Linked DNA regions of Homo sapiens. The protein of the gene in region 1 binds, or shares a complex with, the protein of each later gene. Each region holds a gene or a part of one and is shown on either strand. Other genes may lie near its edges.

The links.
Region 2: E2F2 (region 1) and TFDP2 share a complex: the UniProt entries of both Homo sapiens proteins name them as parts of the DRTF1/E2F transcription factor complex.

The regions. Positions count from the first base shown.
Region 1 is NC_000001.11:23,526,821-23,537,669, reverse strand, and holds the start of E2F2 (transcription factor E2F2), read left to right. Parts: upstream 1-6,436; 5' UTR 6,437-6,876; coding exon 6,877-7,128; intron 7,129-9,250; exon of another isoform or gene 9,251-10,265; intron 10,266-10,599; exon of another isoform or gene 10,600-10,740; intron 10,741-10,849. UniProt on the Homo sapiens protein: Transcription activator that binds DNA cooperatively with DP proteins through the E2 recognition site, 5'-TTTC[CG]CGC-3' found in the promoter region of a number of genes whose products are involved in cell cycle regulation or in DNA replication.
Region 2 is NC_000003.12:141,941,520-141,952,121, reverse strand, and holds the end of TFDP2 (transcription factor Dp-2), read left to right. Parts: 3' UTR 1-7,083; coding exon of another isoform or gene 7,084-7,112; 3' UTR 7,113-7,694; downstream 7,695-10,602. UniProt on the Homo sapiens protein: Can stimulate E2F-dependent transcription.

The DNA.
Region 1 (10,849 bases):
ACAATCCCACCAGCAATGAATGAGGGTTCCAATGTATGAGGGTTCTCCACATCCTGGACGACACTAGTTATTGTCTCTCTTTTCTATTATAACCATTCTAGTGGGTTAGTGAAGTGTCATCTCATTGTAGTTTTGATTTGCATTTCCCTAATGACTAATGATGTTGAGCATCTTTTCACGTGCTTATTGGCCTCTGTATATTTCCTGTTTTTTTTGAGACGGACTTTGGCTCTTGTCTCCCAGGCTGGAGTGCAATAGCACAATCTCGGCCCACTGCAACCTTTGCCTCCTGGGTTCAAGCGATTCTCCTGCATCAGCCTCCTGAGTAGCTGGTACTACAGGCGCCCGCCATCACGCCCAGCTAATTTTTGTATTTTTAGTAGAGTCAGGGTTTCACCATGTTAGCCAGGCTGGTCTCGAACGCCTGACCTCAGGTGATCCACCTGCCTCAGGCTCCCAAAGTGCTGGGATTACAAGTGTGTGAGCCACTGCGTCCGGCCTGGCCTCTGTATATTTTCTTTGAAGAGTTGTCCAACCAAATTGTTTGCCTTCTTAATAAATTTTGGTACACACACACACACACACACACACACACAGCACATTCACATCCCATCCCAGATTCACTTCAACGCAATAAACCCGAGACAGCTGTGATTAGCCCTGTTTATCAGATGAAGGAACAGAGGCCCAGAGTAATGCAATGATATGTCCAAGAGCACATAGCTTATGGAGTGCCAAGATTTAGAATTTTATGTTTTTTTCTTTATTTTTCTTTATTTTTATTTTTTTGAGACGGGTTCTCACTCTGTCTCCCAAGCTGGAGTGCAGTGGTGCAATCTTGGCTCACTGCAACCTCCGCTTCCTGGGTTCAAGCGATTCTCCTGCCTTAGCCTTCCGAGTAGCTGGAATTACAGGTGTGCACCACCACACCTAGCTAATTTTTATATTTTCAGTAGAGACAGGGTTTTTCCATGTTGGCCAGGCTGGTGTCGAACTCCTGGCCTCAACTGATCCACCCACCTCGGGCTCCCAAAGTGTTGGGATTACAGGCACGAACCACTGCACCTAGATTTTTTTTTTTTTTTTTTTTTTGAGACAGAGTCACTGTCGCCCAGGCTGGAGTGCAGTGTCGAGATCTCGGCTCACTGCAGGCTCCGCCCCTGGGTTCACGCCATTCTCCTGCCTCAGCCTCCCGAGTAGCTGGGACTACAGGCGCCTGCCATCTCGCCCGGCTAATTTTTTGTATTTTTAGTAGAGACGGGGTTTCACCGTGTTAGCCAGGATGGTCTCAATCTCCTGACCTCATGATCCGCCCGCCTCAGCCTCCCAAAGTGCTGAGATTACAGGCGTGAGCCACCGCGCCCGGCCTGCACCTAGAATTTTATGTATTTAACAAACATTCATATAGTGTTTACTACATGCCAGTCACTGTTAGAAAAGCCCACGAACCCATCTTCCAACAATGTTCCAGTAAAAAGGTTACCACTAGCAGAACTTCCTTAAAGCAATACCTTGTTTCTCTTTTTAAAAAACAACTTTTTTTTCTCCAATCACCAAAGTAATACATGTTTATTGTAGAATAGGAAAAGCACAAAGAAGATGGAGCAGGGATTTTTCTCCCTTGTTTCCCATAGCTCTGATCTGGTTTCTCTGTGATTTGGGATTCGTGTGAACAGGTGATGTGCTGAGGAGCCCGGGACAGGGAATATGTACCTTCAGGAAGTGTCTGTCAAGCAGTTTGTATTCTGATTAACAGGACTTTGAGCACAGGGAATCTGTGGAATTTTTCAGGAGAAGATACACCAGCTGGAATGGAAGTTTGCTTTAGTTTGGGGATTTTTCCAGGACTATCTGGGGTTGCCTGGAACAGGAACTTCCTCACTTACCTGCTCTGTGGCCTCAGGCAAGTCATGGCTTCCTCATCTGGAAAATAGTACTAAGCATCCCCAACTCATCCAGTTGTGGGACACAGTCTTTCCACTTCCAGCAATGTGTGCAGCACTGGAACCCCTGGTTCATTAGCAGAATGTACCCTCCTTCACATGGGGTTTTGGGGCTGAGTTCACTGTTCACAACAGCGCAGTGCCTTGGGAGAGATCTGAGTTCAGATCCTGATTTCATCTTCAAACAGTTGTCAAGTTCCTTTACATATTTCAGCTTCAATTTCTTCATCTGTCCAAAATGTACCTGTGTTACAGGGTAGTTGGGAGGTTTCGACAAAATAATGTATGTAAAATACCTAGCTGGGTGTTTACGCCTAGGAAGTTCTCAGGAAATGTGAACTATTATCATTTATTTCAGGCCTACTTTGTGCCTGGCATCTCAGGGGAGGAAGGCGCAAAAGTGAAAACAAAGCCTGGGTCCTGCCCCCAAGGAGTCTGAAGATTTGTTGATAGGTAGATTAAAGTAAAAGGGTCTTATGCACTGGAGATAGGATCAGAGACGTAAGAAAACTGCCAATTCTTGAGGCTCCTTATAAACCAGGTTCCATGCTGAAAGCTTTATATGCATTATCTATGAGATTTCTTCACAATCCTATGAGGTAAGTGCTATTAGGATTAGAAAATCAAGGATCAAAGATCAGAGAATTTAGGAAATTTTGCCTGGGTCACACAGCTAATAAAGTGTCAGGGCCTGGGTTTGAACCCTGGGATGTCTGACTTCAGATTCTTTGCTCCTTCCACTCCATTTGAGTTGGACCTTGAAGGATGAGTCAGATTTGGGCACATGGGGATGGAGGGGAGGAGGGGCCTGGAGGGGAGGCGGGGCCTGAAGAATAGGAGGATATGGAGCCAGGTAAGCAAAGCCTGGGAGATGGGAAAGTGTAGGGCGTGTACGGCAGAAACTCTGAGGGTTTTGTGTGTGTGTGTGTGTGTGTGTGTGTGTGTGTATGTGTGTGTGTGTGTTTGAGACAGGGTCTCGCTCTGTGACCCAGGCTGGAGTGCAGTGGCACGATCTTGGCTCATTGCAACCTCCACCTCCTGGGTTCAAGCGATTCTCCTGCCTCAGCCTCCCGAGTAGCTGGGATTACAAGCACACACCACCACGCCTGGCTAATTTTTTTTTTTTTTGTATTTTTAGTAGAGACAGGTTTTTGCCATGTTGACCATGCTGATCTCAAGCTCCTGGTCTCAAGTGATCCACCCACCTCGGCCTCCCAAAGTGCTGGGATTACAGGCATGAGCCACCGTGCCCGGCCTGTTTGTTTATTTTGAGACAGTCTTACTGTGTCACCCAGGCTGGAGTGCAGTGACATGATCATGGCTCACTGCAGCCTTGACCTCCCTGGGCTCAGGTGATCCTCCCACCTCAGCCTCCCGAGCAGCTGGGATTACAGGCGTGTGCCACCACGCCCAGCTAATTTTTCTGTATTTTGGAGAGACAGAGTTTTGCCATGTTGCCCAGGCTGGTCTCAAACTCCTGGGCTCAACAGATCTGTCCACCTTGGCCTCCCAAAGTGCTGGGTTCACAGGCATGAACCAATGTGCCCGGCCTGAAACTGCAAGTATTTAGTCTGGTTCCATGTGAGGGCCTCTTCGGGTCCATTTCACATAAACCTTAGCCAAAATATATTAAGTACCTACCATGCACCTGACATTTCTCTAAGGACTTTATAACCAACACCTTACTAAGGCCTCACAGTAAATGGAGAGGTCACTTGTGCCGCCTCCATTTCAAAGATGAGGAAATTGAGACTCAGAATGGTCCAGCAACCTGACCATGATCACAATGCTAGGAATGAATGGGGCAGGAATTCAAGCTCAGGGAGGCAGATTTCAGATCTGTGCCCCACACCTATTGCAAGAATTAGTCAGTTCCCAGGCAGTGAAACTCTAAAGCCAGCCCCAGCTGCCCGAAACTCAACCACAGAGAGCTGGCTCTCAGCCCCTCACTGGCTCCCTTCTTTTCTCCCAGCTCCACCCTGCCACCCCCATTTCCCTCCCTGGCCCTGGGGCCCTGCTGCTTCCCCAAACCTGCTCTGCCACAATTCCTTCCAGGTTCCCTCATCTGTAAAATGGGGATAATAATAGTGTCCGTCTCAGAGCAGTGTTGTGAGGATCAGAGGAGGGGCTCAAGGTGCTTAGAGCCCAGTGTATAGTAGGTTCTCAATAAAAATCAGTGATCATCGCCACCACTGTCATTTAAGTAGTGTCTCTGAAGTAATGTGAAATTGACTGAGTGATAGCATTATCCACATTTGATGGTTGAGGAAATTGTGGTTAAGAGAAGTGAAGCAGCGGCTGTCCAGTGTCACTTAACTAGGAAGTAGAGAGCGGGACTTACTTAATCTGGGCCTCCTGACTTTCTGACTTCAGATCTCATTAACTTCTCCTATTCTTTGCAGCCAGGCAGATGAGTGAATCATAATCAGTATTTATTACCTGCCTTCTGCACTCCAAGCCAGGCCCTAGATGCTAAGGGGCATTCTAGAGAGATCTGACCTAGATTCTTGAAGGAGCATAGAACCTAACTGATAAACAAGGTATGAAAACGAAGCCTTGTTTTGTTGAGGTAGAACACACTAAGGGTCCCAAGAGGGTAAGAGCCATTCTGGCTGAGAGGAAGCAGGCAGGGGAGGCTTCTTGGAGGAGGTGAGATTTAAGCTGGCCCTCAAAGGACCAAAAAGGACCAATGAGATACGTAGACTAGAGTAAAAGGGTCTTATGCACTGGAGATAAGGTCAGAGATGTGACCGGGAGCGGTGACTCACACCTGTAATCCCAGCACTTTGGGAGGCCAAGTAGGGCGGATTGCCTGAGGTCAGGAGTCCGAGACCAGCGTGGCCAACATGGTGAAACCCTGCCTCTACTGAAAATACAAAAATTAGCCAGGCATGGTGGCTGGCGCCTGTAATCCCAGCTACTCGGGAGGCTGAGGCAGGAGACTCACTTGAACCTGAGGCAGGAGAATTGCACCGCTGCACTCCAACCTGGTGACAGAGTGAGACTCTGTCTAAAAAAAAAAAGTCAGAGATATAACAACAGCTGCCAATTCTTGAGGCTCCTTATGATCCAGGTTCTGTGATGAAAGCTTTATATGCATTATCTCATGAGATTTCCTCATGATCATATGAGGTAAGTGCTATTAGGAGGAGAAAATCAAGGATCAAGGATCAGAGAATTTACAAAATTTGCCTTGGTCACACAATGAATAATAAAGTGTCTGGGCCTGGGTTTGAATTCGGGGCTGTTGGCTACAAAGCCTGGGCTCTTAATCATCATGGGTTATTGCCACCTTGGCCTCAACCATCTAATGAGGAATTAAGCTGTGGACTGTCTCTGGAGGGCTTTGAATGCCAAGGCTCAGACTTGCATAAAAATCACACAGCACCAGGCAAGAAATCAGACCTGAAATCTAGCAGCAGCTTCTAGCAACTTTTTACCACTCACTACCCAAGTTTGCTTCTCTGAGCCTCTCTAAACCGGAGTGATGAGGAATGTATTATCAGCAATGAAGGTTTTTGAATGAGGCAGAGAGGCTCTTGTGACAAAAGGATTGTTTAAAAGAAACCTAGAGATGTTCAAACATTTACTGAGTATTGGGTCCTAATAATACAACTGTGAACAAGACAAAGCTCTGCAGTGGGACTCTGACCCTGCTGTGCCCCCAGGCAGCTTGGGAGAGTAGAAGAACCCCTTAACTGGAAAAACAAGGGCTCCAGAGCTGGGACCTGTCCCAGATTCTGTTGCCAGCTCTCAAATCAGGGAATCTCTCTGTATGACCTTGGGCAAGTTACCCAGCCTTTCAGACTGTCAGTCTTTATCATGGGGATCATCATTCCTCTTCCCAGGATTGTTGGAATAAATTAACTAAAACAACGCTTGTAAGGATCTAGCATGGTGCCTGGCATCCTGTAGGCGCTGAATAGATGTTAGTTTTCCCTACAAAGAAGTAGACTAGTTTGCCTCCGTCCCTCACCCCTCTGCCATTAAAGGGAACAGGTTCCTGGCCTTCATTTTAGCAGGAAAGGGGATATGAATGCACATGTGCTAGCTAAGCAACAATGCAAACTAACAAAAGGGCCTGTGGCCTGGGGAATACACTGCTGGGTCTGGGCTCAGGCTGGGACCCCGCGCCAAAATGTTTCCCTTCAATCCCAGGGAATCCGGGCCCATTTCTCGGGGCGCTGTGCACTGCTCTGGCCGCCTCTGCACTGTGAATCCCGGAACCACCCTCTGTCTCCGTCTCGCCGGCTGCTAACTAGCGCGGCCGGCGGCTGGCGGCACCAACAGCAGGTGTGGCTGCCCCTTTAAGCAGCGAAGCTAGTGTTGCAATCGCCGCCTCGAGGACGCGTTCTTTCCGGGGGGGGGGGGGGGGGTGGAGCCTGTACTGTCGCAGCAGCCAACCGGAGCGCGGCATTTTCCGCGGGAGATCCGAATTTCGCGGCACGACGTTTGGCGCTAAAAAAAAAAAAAAAAGAAGAAAAAAAAGAGGCAGAGAAAGACTCAAGGACTAGAGAGCGAGCCGCAAGGAAGTCGGTGCAGTCGAGACCCCCCTCCCCATCCCAGCGCATCGCGTCTCCGCCGAGCTTGAGGGCACGCCGGGGACCCCTCCCCAGAGCCGGCCGGACCCCAGGTGCCGAGGCCTTGGGGAGCGCGGGGCGTCCCGGGTCGCGGTGCCCTCGGGACGAGACAGCCCCTGGCAGTGCCACCACCGCAGCCGCCGGGCGATCTCCAAGCGGCGATCTCTAAGCGCTGCTCTCTGCTCGGCCGCGGGCCAGGAGGGGAGGGTCCGGCCTTGCCCCGCAGGCGTCCATTGGCGGCTTCCCCCGGCCTCCGCGCCATGCCGCGGGCCGTGTGAAAGGCGGCAGCACCGGAACCCGCAGGTGTCCGCGGGCGCGCCAAGCCCTTTTGGGTAGGGGGCGCCTTACTCGCTATGCTGCAAGGGCCCCGGGCCTTGGCTTCGGCCGCTGGGCAGACCCCGAAGGTGGTGCCCGCGATGAGCCCCACAGAGCTGTGGCCATCCGGCCTCAGCAGCCCCCAGCTCTGCCCAGCTACTGCTACCTACTACACACCGCTGTACCCGCAGACGGCGCCTCCCGCAGCGGCGCCAGGCACCTGCCTCGACGCCACTCCCCACGGACCCGAGGGCCAAGTTGTGCGATGCCTGCCGGCAGGCCGGCTGCCGGTAATGCTGGGGGCCCCCACCGCTTCCCCCTATGCTTTTCCAGGTGTGGGAAAGGAGGGAGGGGTGCCTGAGATCCAGTTTGAGTGGAGCAGGTAGAGTTTTGGGAAGAGGGAAGATGAGCTTTCAGTTTCCAGGACCCAGTGCCCCCAATATCTGAGTAGAAGACCCCTTCATTTTCAGACTTTGGATGAAATAATCTCATCCATTCTAGTGGAGTGGAATGAGCACTGGATTGCGAGTCTGGAGGGAGACCCAACTCACTACTCCCAGTGCACTGTGTGACCTTGGGGAAGTCCATGCAGCCAGCGTTGCCGCCATTCATTCATTACTTCATTGTTTGGCCAGAAACCAGTACTGGGTGCCTGCTATTGTCCAGGCAAAGAGTATGGCCTGGGGACACTGTGGGACTTTGGTAAGACAGAGGGATAGGTCTAGTGGGTCTCTCACATCCAATCTGCCATGGACAGACTCCAAATTGTCCAGCCAGCTCCTGAGATAGCCCCAAGTATCTGCCCTAGGTCCTCCCCCAGGCCCAGTCTTCCCTCCCAGACAGCCATGTAGCAGATACAAATGTGGGCAGCCCCCTTGGGTTCTGTTCAGATTGGCTGCTCTCTCCTCAAGCTCCCAGGCTCGTTGCCAGAGAGGGCCCAAAGTGTAGTGGCACCAGGCTGCCTGCTGACCTGGGCTCAGGGTGTGTTTTGTGGGAGTGGAATTCCTGGAGCCCGTGTGAATCAAAACAACTTTAGGGTGGGGGGTGGAGTGGGAAAAGCCTGGGGGAGTGGAGGTGGTGGTGGTTGAGGAGCCTGGTTTCTGGTGTGACTCTGCCACTAATTCTCTGTGTGTCCTTGGACAAGTCTTGGACCCAGTCTGGGCTTCAGTGTTCTCTCCTTCACAATGCGTGTGTGCACAGGGTGGCTGTGGGGCTAGCTCTTCTCAGCCACATTCAGCTCCAGGTCCTGGGTTTTGGAAGCAGGCTCCAGGGAGAGGAAGGGGGTGTTGTAGGTTTGCTTAGTTGTGAGTTTGGTGAATAAGTTCGGGTACAGGGATAAGACCACCCCCCACTGCCCCAGAGGCATCTGGTCAGACCTGTGCTAGTCAGCAAGCACGGATGCCCAGCCAGCTCTGGATGCAGGCAGAGCCACCACTCCCTGCCAGTGGACTCAGGCTTTGCCCATGTTCAAAACGTTAACCTTCCTGGAGACCCTTCCTGCACATGATTTCTAACTAGGAGGGCAGTGGGCAGGAATGGTATTATCCCCATTTTACAGGTTAAGCAACCGAGGATAACTGGGATTGGGTATCTTGTGTTCAGTGTTTTATAGCCTAAAACATCTTTGTAGTTCGTGAAATAGATGGCATTAATAGCTCCATGTTACAGGGGGAAACTGAGGCTCAGAGAGGGGATGTGACCTAAGGTCAGAGATGGGGATGGGGTAGAGTGATGGGACTCACAAGGCAGTCAGCTCTTCTGTCTTTTATTTTTTATTTTTTGTAGAGACAGGGGTCTCCCTATGTTCCCCAGGCTGGTCTCAAACTCCTGGGCTCAAGCAATCCTCTTGCCTCAGCCTCCCAAAGTGCTGGGATTACAGGCATGAGCTAGCTACTCTAATGCACCTGGTCAGGCAGCAGGCTCTTCTCTATGTAGCCTTGACTTTTTTTAATACTGCCTAACTTAGGAGCTGAGCTCCCCCCAGGGAAGGGAGCTTTGCGGCAGGCCCACTCTCCTCTGGCCAGCTGCTTTCAGACTGGAAGTTTCAGTAACAGCTGTGGTTTTACACTGCTTTGAACCCTCCCAGAGGAGCCCAAGTACATCTGTCTGTACCTCCCTCCCAGAAGGGCTCAGTGATCTTAGCAAGAAGGTCTCTCTTTTACTGAGTGCCTCTCGTGTGCCAGACACTGCTTGGCACTCTTCACGTTCATTATCTTGGTCAGGATGTCCAGAATGAGGCACCTTGCAGATAAGGAAACTGAGCAAAGAAAGGAAGTCACTTGCCTGGGTCACAAGTGAAGAAGCAGGGGAGTCTCCTTGCAGCAGACCACCCTAAAGCCCTGCCAGGCCCAGAGCTCCCGCTCCTGTCAATCCCCAGATGCCCGGGGCCCAGCCCCGTGGGCAGGCCTGCCCTCTGCTTACTCATTTTACAAGGGCGTGACCTGGAACAGCTCCAAACCCAACCCTGGGTGTGGCCGCTTGCTTTGTGGCCGGGCTGCAAAGTGCAGGGTGAGCAGGATTTGTTGTGGAGCTTCTGTTTAAAGGGACCTCAGGCACTGTCCAAGGATGGCAACCAAGTTCAATGGCAGAATGAAGGCCACAACCCAGATCTCCTGGCTCCCTGTCCAGAGCTCTTTCCAAGTCCTCTGAGGAAGGCTCAGGGAATGCCCCTTTATCGCATGCCTCCTCTGGCCAGGCGCATGGCATCATTCTCTTTCACGCCTGCAGGAAGCTCTGCCCAGGCTGGCTTGCAATAGCGCCATCTCTGCTCACTGCAAACTCCACCTCCCAGGTTCAAATGATTCTCCTGTCTCAGCCTCCCAAGTAGCTGGGATTACTTTTTGTATTTTTAGTAGAGATGGGGTTTCACCATGTTGGCCAGGCTAGCTTCGAACTCCTGACCTCAGGTGATCCACCCGCCTTGGCCTCCCAAAGTGCTGGGATTACAAGCGTGAGCCACCACGCCCGGTCCTCCTTTTCTTTCAATTTGTCTACATTTTCCAGATTTCCTCTTGTGAGGCATGAAAGAAAATAAACATTTTAACACACAACTCTACAAGGCAGGTCAGGTGAGGAGGTGTAGGCTCAGAGAGGCAAGACAGTGAATCCCAGGCTGTTCAGCTACGAAGTGGCAGAGCTGGGATCTGAAAGCAAGGTTCGACCCCTTACATTTGCTCCTACCCCCACCATCTGACTTAGGGCTTAGGAGAGACCAGGCTCCACTCTGCGTGACCTTGGGCAAGTCAATTCCTCTTCCCCAAGTCCCAGTTTCCTCACCGTGGTGCCCGTAAGGGGGTTGTGCCTGGTGATCTCTGACCCTCTGCACTTCTGCAGCTGCCTGAGGAAGGAGCTGTACTCTTCTCCATAGGGGTTGGCAGGGTGGGCTTGCGTCCTGACCAGGCCTTGAAGATCCAGCCAAAGGGGCTGCCTAAGAGCGTCCAGGATAGGGCTAAGCTGGCCTCTGGCTGTGGCCATAGCCTTTGCTCTCCTCCCCTCATCGCAGTCTCTTTTCAGCTCACCCTTGAACTTTCCCCTTTTCCCACTGGTGCTCCCCATACATCAGTGCTAGCAGCTCCCTGGTGGGGGCACTCCCTATGGGCAAAGCGCTTTGCTGCACTATCTCACTGAATCCTCAGCATAGGTGGAGACAATGATGCCCATTTTATAGGTGACTTGACGTCAACTGATTTCCCAGCTAAGAAGGGGAAGGCCTAGATGCAAAGCCAGGCCAGTCTGACTCCAAGACCTGTGCTCAGCCTCACCTTGATGCTGATCCTCCTGGGCTTGTCCTCTGCCACCTGTGTTCTGCAGGTTCAGCCCAAGCCATAGGCTGACTTTCCTCTGGGCACTGTCCAAAGGTGTCAGGGAGGTATCCTTAGGGGGACACTTGCCGCATTGGGACCCTGGGAGTGCAGAATAAGGGTGAAGGAGAGTGAGAAAAGAGAGAAGGCTGTGTGTGTGTGTGTGTGTGTGTGTGTGTGCAAGTACATGCAGTGATGGGGGCAGGTGGGC
Region 2 (10,602 bases), on another chromosome or scaffold:
TTTCTGACGTTTCTCTTCCTTGCCTGGACTGCCTTTGACAAGGCAGAAATGAACATGAAAAGTCCCCAGGAGAGGGGAGCTGTGTAGTGAGGGATACTGAGGGCAGTCCTGTGGCTGAGGGGCACAGATTGAACTGCTGAACTAGTTGGAGGTCTAGATGAGGTGCTTTACGCATCAGCTGCCTTAGACAGCTTCTAGAAAGGAGCGAGCGCTACTTCTTAAGTACTTAAGTGACATTTAGATAATTTATAGTAAAACTGAAATTATTATTAGCCAATGCATTGGTGCATAGAATTTACTAGGGCTACTTCTGGAAGCCAAAATAGAATAGCATTTCCATGTGCATTAAATACTTTGCCAGCACTGCCTTTGCCAGCATCCTAAATCTGGAGTTTTACAAAGAAGGAAACTGTATCTTTAGGTTAATCAAAGCTATGCATTTCATATAGCTTTTTCATTTAAAACAAGACAAAGAAACAAATTCCTATGACCAAATTGCTTGCCTACAGTTCCCTGCAGTAATTGTATGATCTCACCCAGTGTGCAATTTGTGAAAATGAACCAAATGTCATTACTTTTGTCTTAAAGAAAAGTCTATTTCAAGAATATGAACAGCAGTGTTTCCTTGTACATGTCACCTTTTTTCACATTTTCATTAATCAGAATGACCTTATTGAGCCTACTCCTGGGGTCAATTGCATTTCAAACTAATCCAATATTTAGTGTTTCACAGAAACACTAGAAAACGTTGAACACTCCTACTGCCTGGATATATGGTAGTGCAGTTATGTTGTTTATGGCTCAAGATGTCATTAGAAATACTGCAGTGGTGTATTCACAGCTGCTCCTTCTCTGAATGAAAGAGTGTAGGGACACCTGCCACCATGGCCAGACCCTGACTGAATTTCACATTAAGGCTTTGGAAAGGAGCAAATAATAATGGGAGAATTAACTCCAAAACTTTGACCTGAATCATGTGGATTTGTCCCAAGATTATGCTAGATGCACCAAGCATGGCCCAAATTGGTTCTTTTTTAAATCCCATGGGGGAAGTGCAGGCTCCTTCCTGTGGTGCCTCTTTATAGCCTCACCACCATGCTAACACTGAGCATGGTGAGGAGGAGGAAGCTTTGGCTAGCTAAACATGTTTAATAAGGCCATAAAAACTGAGAAAGAAAAACATTCAACTTTAGCTGAAGCTCCTTTGATACAAAAGTTTCATTCTGTCAGAAATAAGCCATAGTACAGACTCAGAGATAGAGGCAGTTTCTAGAGAACTCGGTCTTATCGTGGGTTCTGGAGCACACCTCTCAGACCAGTCAGGAACACTGGGGAGGTGACAGCAGGTCCCCAGGGGCCTGCAGGGAATCTTTCAGCTGCACGGATTGGGATTTCCCTCCAAACCAAACTGTCCTTTAAGGGGCAGCCTCCTCTTTTACTAACTCCACCCTTTCTCATCTCTGGGACCCAGCAGGGACCTGGAGAGGCCAACAGCCACTGCTACCTTTGTAGTCTTCAAAATATTGAACTGCAGGTCCCAAGATGCATTTCAGGATTTAAGACAGGTGCACTAATGATAACCATTCCTTCACCAAGTAGCAACATTCTTGCCAGAGTTCTTGGGAAACCTGTTTTTTTCTCTACTCTCCATCTCTGCTGCTCTCATGCTTTAAATTGATAAAATATGGGCTCAAAAAAAGAAAGCCGCCAAAGACTCTTATCCTTATTGGTGCCCCATCATTGGCCACCCCAGCCATAGGTGTGTGCTGTTGGTGGGAAATGGTCTCCTTCCTCAGCGTTGTGTTTGGGTTACTGGTGAGGCCAGCTCACAGAGTGACATCATGGTCACCAGTACATGTCGCTGGAGTAAAATCTTGCCTTTAGAAACTAGGTTGAGCTGTTCAGAAAGGTCAATTCTCTTCTGTATTCCCCCTCAACATTTATCTGGGTCTAAAGCTCAGCACTGAGTCACAATTTCACACAAGATCAAAGTGAGGCAGTGTTAGGAAACCATGGGCTGGGTGCAGTGCCTCTCGCCTGTAATCGTAGCACTTTGGGAGGCCGAGGCGGGCACATTGCTTGAGCTCAGGAGTTCAAGACCAGCCTGGGCAACATGACAAAACCCTGTCTCTACAAAAATACAAAAATTAGCTGGGTGTGGTGGGGCATGCCTGTAGTCCTGGCTACTCAAGAGGCTGAGGTGGGAGGATTGCTTGAGCGCAGGAGGCGGAGGTTGTAGAGCCAAGATCACACCACTGCACTCCAGCCTGGGTGACAGAGCAAGACCCTGTCTCAAAAAAAAAAAAAAAAAAAATGGAAGTTGTGGTCACAATGCCCAGGCTTCTTTGTTATAGTGGCACGCTGGGTTACTTGCCACACACAGATCACTCCTCCCAGGGCTGCTGGCACACACTGATTGTGGGGAGTTCAAGAGGCCTTTTCCCCTTGAGGGTGTGGCTGTCCCCCTTTCAGGCGTGTGGCGTCATTCATGGAGGAAGTGCTGGCTCTACTTAGCACACGCACAGTGGCACTAGGACCTGCGTGCCTGGCCCTCAGTGGGTAGGGCGGTGCTGCCTAGGCACACAGCAGCGCTTACGGGCCCCAGGTGCCTACTAGGCTGCCTTCCTCTTCCCCGCTGTCAGTCTGTGTCCTCCACGTGCTTATTTCCTGTGGTGAGAGCAGTTGTGGTGTTTGTATACCTTGTGCCTTATGATCAAGGTGGGCCTTGGAGGAGGGCGGGAAAGGAGCGACCAACATGGCGGTCCTCCACCCCTCAGCGACACCCACCGCCCGAGAAACTACAGACAATGGCCACAAGTTTGGCGTCCTTCAATTTAATTCTTTAAAGAAGTGCTGGGAAGAAAAAGCTATGTGGTTTCTACCATTTTAGCAGGATAAAGAGGATAACTCCTTCCATTAGCAAATTTTACAGTTGTTAACAGTACTCTGCCATATTTGAAAAATAATGCCAGAGTCAGTCCTTGAAAACAAGGTAGCTCCTATCAGAATTCAAATGGAAATTTTTTTTTTTTTTTTTTTTTTTTTTGAGACTGAGTCTCGCTCTGTTGCCCAGGCTGGAGTGCAGTGGTGATCTCGGCTCACTGCAAGCTCCGCCTCCCGGGTTCACGCCATTCTCCTGCCTCAGCTGGGACCATGCCTGGCTAATTTTTTTTGTATTTTTAGTAGAGACGGGGTTTCACCGTGTTAGCCAGGATGGTCTCGATCTCCTGACCTTATGATCCACCCCTCTCGGCCTCCCAAAGTGCTGGGATTACAGGCGTGAGCCACCGCACCCGGCCTCAAATGGAAATATTTCACAGAGGAGTGGTTCAGTTTAGCCCTGCAAGACATCTATAACTTGACTGTTTGCTAAACCACAACTCTTTTTGGCTACTTGGGTCATAGAGACAGCAGAGTTGCTCCAAGTATAAATGTGACTTAGGCTCCCTCCAGCACACAGTGTGTATGTTGGAGGGAGTGTGGATTAGCAGAGAATGAGAACTACCTCAGCTATTCCTGCCATAACCACACTGAGAGAGGGGGGCACGGTGGGGAGCCTATTTAGCTTTTTTTTTTTTTTGAGACGGAGTCTTGCTCTGTCGCCAGGCTGGAGTGTAGTGGCGCAATCCCGGCTCACTGCAACCTCTGCCTCCCGGGTTCAAGCGATTCTCCTGCCTCAGCCTCCCAAGTAGCTGGGATTATAGGCGCATGCCGCCACACCCGACTAATTTTTTGTATTTTTAGTAGAGTCAGGGTTTCACCGTGTTGCCCAGGCTGGTGTCGAACTCCTGACCTCAGGTGATCTGCCCACCTCAGCCTCCCGAAGTGCTGGGATTACAGGTGTGAGCCACCGCACCCGGCTCTATTTAGCTTTTTAAAAATTATTTCCTTTCAAGGGCCCTTTAATATCTATCAAGCTCCCTCCCCTAACAAAATGGGCTGTCCCTGCCCAACAAGTCTGAAATAGACCTTAAAACTGTGCTGCCTTAGTGGTAAGTAAGGGGTGGGGGTTGGACAGTGAATCTTAAGATTTCATCCTTCATTCAGTAAGCATTTGAGTACCTACTGTGAGCAGGCATTGGGGCGGAGCAGCGAGAGCCCTGCCGATGTTGGGTTCTCCTCCTATTGGGGAAACTTGATCACAGATGGAACACGTGCAGATTGATTGATGAGTGCTGTGGAGAAAGCAGCAGCGTAGCGGGACCGTTTGGGAAAGGCTACTTTGGCTGGGGGTGGCTGGGAAAGGCCCCTCTGGGAAAGAGACAGTTTTACTGAGTCAGATGGTGGAAAGACAGATGTCTCTATACTTTCTTAACAAGCCACTCTGTCCCATAACATGCACTTGGAATCTCTCCTAAGTTCCAGAGGCCCCACTGTTCCAGTTTCAAGCCTTCATTTTGGAGTCTGTTTGGGAACTTTTAAGACTTCAAAGCAAAGTTAGCTACCAGCAATTTCTGTAAACCAAGAGAAGATTGTCACAAAGATTCACTACTTTCCAACTGAATCTATGCAGTAGAAAAATCATTAGAAAATACAAAAATTAGCCGGGCGTGGTGGCACATGCCTGTAGTCCCAGCTACTCGGGAGGCTGAGGCAGGAGAATCACTTGAACCCAGGAGGCGGAGGTTGCAGTGAGCCAAGATCCCGCCACTGCACTCCAGCCCAGGTGACAGAGCAGGACTCTGTCTCAAAAAAAGAAAAAAGAAAGAAAGAAAAATGATTAGAAATTGAGAACTATTTTACGTGTTTCTAAGTTGTTGGCTACATCAAAGAGATCATCTGTATTCTGCATATGGGCTGGCTTTGGTGAAGCTGATGACTGGACTTCTAAGAACCGTTTTCCCAAATGGGTTCCCATATTCATGCACCCAAAGCAATGGTCCCCAAGCACTGATGAAAACTAATATGCATTTCCCAAAGACCCACACTATGTATCAGGAGCCTGCACCATGCCATTTGAATGACCCTCAGCAATGTGCCTCCCTGCCCTCAAATTCCCAGTTGATAACAGTGTTTGATTAAATTTCCACTCAAGCCAAACATGGTTACTAAGAAGAGAAAAACCTGATGTTTGCATAATATTTTTTTTCCCCTCGAGATGGAGTCTTGCTCTGTTGCCCAGGCTGGAGTGCAGTGGCATGATCTCAGCCACTGCAACCTCTGCCTCCCGGGTTCAAGCGATTCTTCTGCCTCAGCCTCCCAAGTAGTTGGGATTACAGACATGTGCCACCACGCCTGGCTAATTTTTGTATTTTTAGTAGAGACAGGGTTTCACCATGTTGACCACACTGGTCTTGAACTTCTAACCATGTGATCTGCCTGCCTCGGCCTCCCAAAGTGCTGGGATTACAGGCTTGAGCCACCACGCCCAGCCTAAGATTTTATGATTAAAAAAAATTCAAGCTCAATACCCACATAAATTATAACGTTTCTCAGGAAGTAGTCCCTTAACCAAAACGTCTCTGAGAAGTGATGCTTAGGTAATCTCTGGGATCCGATTTTCCCACATGTCTCACTCCACAGTATGCTAAAGAAGAAAAAGTGAGTGGGCACAACACTTTGACCCTCTGGCTAAGCCCTGGGAGTCCCTGACAGGTCCAGAAACTTCTCTGACACCCATTCACCAGGGTGCTGAGATAGGAGAAAGTGCTCATTTATAATGTGTATTCTGTGCAGCTGTTCTCAGACAAGACCGGATCTTGTCATCTTACCTTTTGCTTTACAAAAAAGGCCTGTTGAAGTCAATGCTGTCTTGCCCCTTGCTGTTTCAGCAGGTTAGACTTTGGTCTTCACTGCTTATAGCTGCATTGGAGGCCAACGTAGCTGATGCTCAGGGTCAGGCCTCGCCCCTTCGCCGCAGGTCTCAGGATCGGGGATAACATCGCTCCCACCCTGCTCATTTAGAGATGGGAAACAAGCAAGAGCTTGACTTGCCTCCCATCCCTCAGCCTGTCTGTGGCAGAGCCTGCACCAAAACCCAGAGCTTCTTCCCTCCGTGAGGGCCACGCTGTCACCACAGTCCTCCCAGATGGGTTTTGGATTAGCATCAGTCCTGTGTCACCAAGTGCCAAACAGCTGAGGGGTAGAAGTGGGACTCCTTTCCCGAGCCCCAGCATGAGGCTGTGGTGTCAGGTTTAGGCCTCTCTCAAGTCAGAAAACCCCGGGCTGAGACCTCCACAGACAAGGGCTCCCCATGCTGGCCATTGGCAGGGGCCCAAGAAGTTCAGTGACCAACTGGTCCTTCCACACCACACCAGCTGGTGCTGCCCATGTCTGTCGAATCATAACGGAAAATTCCCCAGATCACGTTTGGATTTAAAAACTCATCCCTTGTCGTGCTTCAATGCATGCCATTTGTCACTTACCATACTTCACCATGGCCGAGCTTCATGTCACATGGCCTGGCGATTGTGCTTGTTCACACTGGGGCCAGGATTTTCATACTAAAACGTCACTGACAATGGGGCTACTTTTCTCCTGAATAGCTCCTCTGGGCTTGTTGCAGTTCTAGTTTTCCCAGTAGTTCCATGGCAGGTTCAACCTCTCAGTGTCCTGAAAAATGGAACCACCCACTAACCATATGCACTGGCTGCCCAGGTGGCTGCACTCCGGGGATCACGTTTCAGTACTGAGTTCCTTCACGCACTTGGTTCACCACCATCACTCTTGAGTTTTGGACAAAAGAGGTGGGTATGCCAGGCACAGTGGCTCACGCCTGTGATCCCAGCACTTTGGGAGGCCGAGGCGGGCGGATCACCTGAGGTCGGGAGTTCGAAACCAGCCTGACCAACATGGAGAAACCCTGTCTCTACTAAAAATATAAAATTAGCCGGGTGTGGTGGCGCATGCCTGTAATCCCAGCTACTCGGGAGGCTGAGGCAGGAGAATCTCTTGAACCCAGGAGGCAAAAGTTGCAATGAGCTGAGATCGTGCCATTTGCACTCCAGCCTGGGCAACAAGAGCGAAATTCCATCTCAAAAAAAAAAGGTGGGTAAAGGGCCATGAGCCCAAACCACTAGGTTGTTCACCTTTTCATCTGAAAATGCTTTACTCTGACTATGTGCTATTGGGTTTTATTTCCAGAAAATATAGTTCTCCTTTTTTCTGCATGAAGGATACATCGTGGTGCCACATGCTTTAAGCAATTTAAACAAGAGAGATAAGAGGAAAATGCAACCACCACATCTGACTTGCCCAATGTAGACTTTCCTTTATTAGATTGAAGTACACAACCTAATATGATATATTATTTTGTAGTATCTCAGACTTTGTAAATAAATGCCATTATTTTTATATGGAAATTTTATAGAAGAGCTATTTCTGTATACGTAATTACTCCTGATTTTCTGAAATTGCTTCTGGTAGATAACAGACAAGTCCTAAGCAGTGTTCCACTAAGGGTGGTTCCAGGCCTGCCTGCCGTGGAGTTGACTGGGGGAATTTTACAGTTTTGCGATCCTAGGATGCGTCCCAGACGCTCAGTCAGAAGTGCTGGAGGTGGGGCCTGGGAAGCTGTATTTGTAATGAACTCTGGTGTTTTTTGTCCATTAAAGTGTATCTTTGTCCATCCTATAAGATTAAAGGAAAGAAAAAGCATCTCAAATGAGTGTAAGTTGTTCTTGAGAAAAAAATGTATCAGACTTTTATGATTTGAATGAAATGTATTATAGAAAAAAATAAACACTTTAAAATAATGTTAGTCTCATTACTAGTGGGTCAGGATATTTTTAGTTAAAAAAGGAGGTGTTAGGCCATGCGCAGTGGCTCACGCCTATAACCCCAGCACTTTGGGAGGCCAAGGTGGTCGTATCATTTGAGGTCAGGAGTTCAAGACTAGCCTGGCCAACATGGTGAGATCCCGTCACCACTAAAACTACAAAAATGAGCTGGGTGTGGTGGCATGCGCCTGTAATCCCAGCAACTTGGCGCAGGAGAATCGCTTGAACCTGGGAGGCGGAAGTTGCAGTGAGCTGAGATCACACCACTGCAGTCCAGCCTGGGCAACAGAGTGAGACTCCATCTCAAAAAAAAAAAAAAAAGCCTTTTTTTTGTTTTTGTTTGTGAGATGGAGTCTCTGTTGCCCAGGCTAGAGTGCAGTGGTGCAATCTTGGCTCACTGCAACCCCCACCTCCCAGATTCAAGGGATTCTCCTGCCTCAGCCTCTGGAGTACCTGGGATTACAGGCACGTGCCACCACACCCGGCTTATTTTTGTATTTTTTTTTTTTTTTTTTGAGACGGAGTCTCGCTCTGTCACCCAGGCTGGAGTGCAGTGGCGCAGTCTCGGCTCACTGCAAGCTCCGCCTCCCGGGTTCACGCCATTCTCCTGCCTCAGCCTCTCCGAGTAGCTGGGACTACAGGCGCCCGCCACCACGCCCGGCTAATTTTTTTTTATTTTTAGTAGAGACGGGGTTTCACCGTGGTCTCGATCTCCTGACCTCGTGATCCACCCGCCTCGGCCTCCCAAAGTGCTGGGATTACAAGCGTGCAGCACCGCGCCCGGCCTATTTTTGTATTTTTAATAGAGATGGTGTTTCACCATGTTGACCAGGATGGTCTCCAACTCCTAGCATCAAGTGATCCTCCCACCTCAGCCTCCCAAACTGCTGGGATTAAAATAAAAAAGAACAATAGGCCGGGTGCAATGGCTCATACCTATAATCCCAGCACTTTGGGAGGCTGAGGTGGTCGGATCACTTGAGGCCCGGAGTTCGAGCCCAGCTTGGCCAACATGGTGAAACCCAGTCTCTACTAAAAATACAAAAAATTAGCCAGGTGTGGTGGCGGTCGCCTGTAATCCCAGCTACTCGGGAGGCTGAGGCAGGAGAATTGCTTGAACTCAGGAGGCAGAGGCTACAGTGAGCCAAGATCGCGCCATCGCACTCCAGCCTGGGCAACAAGAGCGAAACTCCATCTCAAAAAAAAAGAAAAATGAACAATAAAATAATGGTGGGCTGTTCGGGTGAGGGTAGTGGGTACTCTGGGGCTCTGCCAGAGAGTAAGGACTGAGACCCTCTTTCAACATCTGAGTTCCTCTTCATGAATTGCCCTCAGAAGGGTGGCCAGGGCCGGGCGCGGTGGCTCACACCTGTAATCCCAACACTGGGAGGCCGAGGTGGGCGGATCACAAGGTCAGGAGATCGAGACCATCCTGGCTAACATGGTGAAACCCTGTTTCCACTAAAAATACAAAAAATAGGCCAGGCGCAGTGGCTCACGCCTGTAATCCCAGCACTTTGGGAGGCCGAGGCGGGCGGATCACGAGGTCAGGAGATCAAGACCATCCTGGCTAACACGGTGAAACCCCGTCTCTACTAAAAATACAAAAAAATTAGCCAGGTGTGGTGACGGGCGCCTGTAGTCCCAGCTACTTGGGAGGCTGAGGCAGGAGAATGGTGTGAACCTGGGAGGTGGAGATTGCCCCACTGCACTCCAGCCTGGGTGACAGAGCGAGACTCCGTCTCAAAAAAAAAAAAAAAAAATTAGCCGGGCATGGTGGCGGGCTCCTGTGGTCCCAGCTACTCGGGAGGCTGAGGCAGGAGAATGGCATGAACCCAGGAGGCGGAGCTTGCAGCTAGCCGAGATAGTGCCACTGCACTCCAGCCTGGGTGACAGAGCAAGACTCTGTCTGAAAAAAAAAAAAAAGAAGAAGGGTGGCCAGGTGCCGTGGCTTACCCCTGTAATCTTAGCACTTTGGGAGGCTAGGCCCAGAATTGCTTCCCTGCAATTCGTAGGGAAGATGCTTTCTTATCATCTCTTACACCAAACCAGCATCAGCGAGAACAGCGACAGCAGTCAATATAGAATGCCATGTCCCCAGGCCTCAGGTGGAATGTCACCTGACCTCCGGAACATAGCAGCCCCTCAGCACCTGATCACGCAGTCTCTACCTGTCTCAGGGAGAGGCCGGAACCCTAGATAGCTTATCTCCTATGTTCCAACAAGTTGAGCACGTGGACAATCAGAAGGCACAGAAGGGTGTGGAGCAGTTCAGGGGCCAGCAAGTAGACCCAGGTCTTGAAAAGGAGATGGCTAAGTAAGCACTCGATGACATATTGGAAGGAATGCATCTTCCCATAAAGACTCCCCCTGGAGTTTCACAGACCAAATAAGGGTGGCGGTGGTGGGGAAGTGGTGAGCCTGTGCTCAAGCCCCTTACCCCAGGGGTCTCCTGGAGTAGTGAGCCAAGCTGGTATTGTGCCTTCTCCGTTCCTCCCGGCCTAGAGGAGCCACTTACTAGTGCCGTTTGGTGAAGGTGTCCAAGGACTCATGGGAGTAACCACTGTATCTCTTGGGCTTAAGAAGGTGCTTTTGTTCTTGTAGCCACATGGGGGATGGCACAGCGACTGAATACACCGCTGACCAGGGGCGATACCTGCAAGCCCACAGAATTGTCTACGAAGAGACAAACTATTTTCAAAAATATTTAAAGAGATTTATTCCGAGCCAAATATGAGTGACCATGGCCCCTGACACAGCCCTCAGGAGGTCCAAGAACATGTGTGCAAGGTGGTCAGGGTGCAGCTTGGTTTTATACATTTTAGGGAGACATGAGACTTCAATCAAGTATGTTTAAAAAATACGTTGGTTCGGTCCAGAAAGG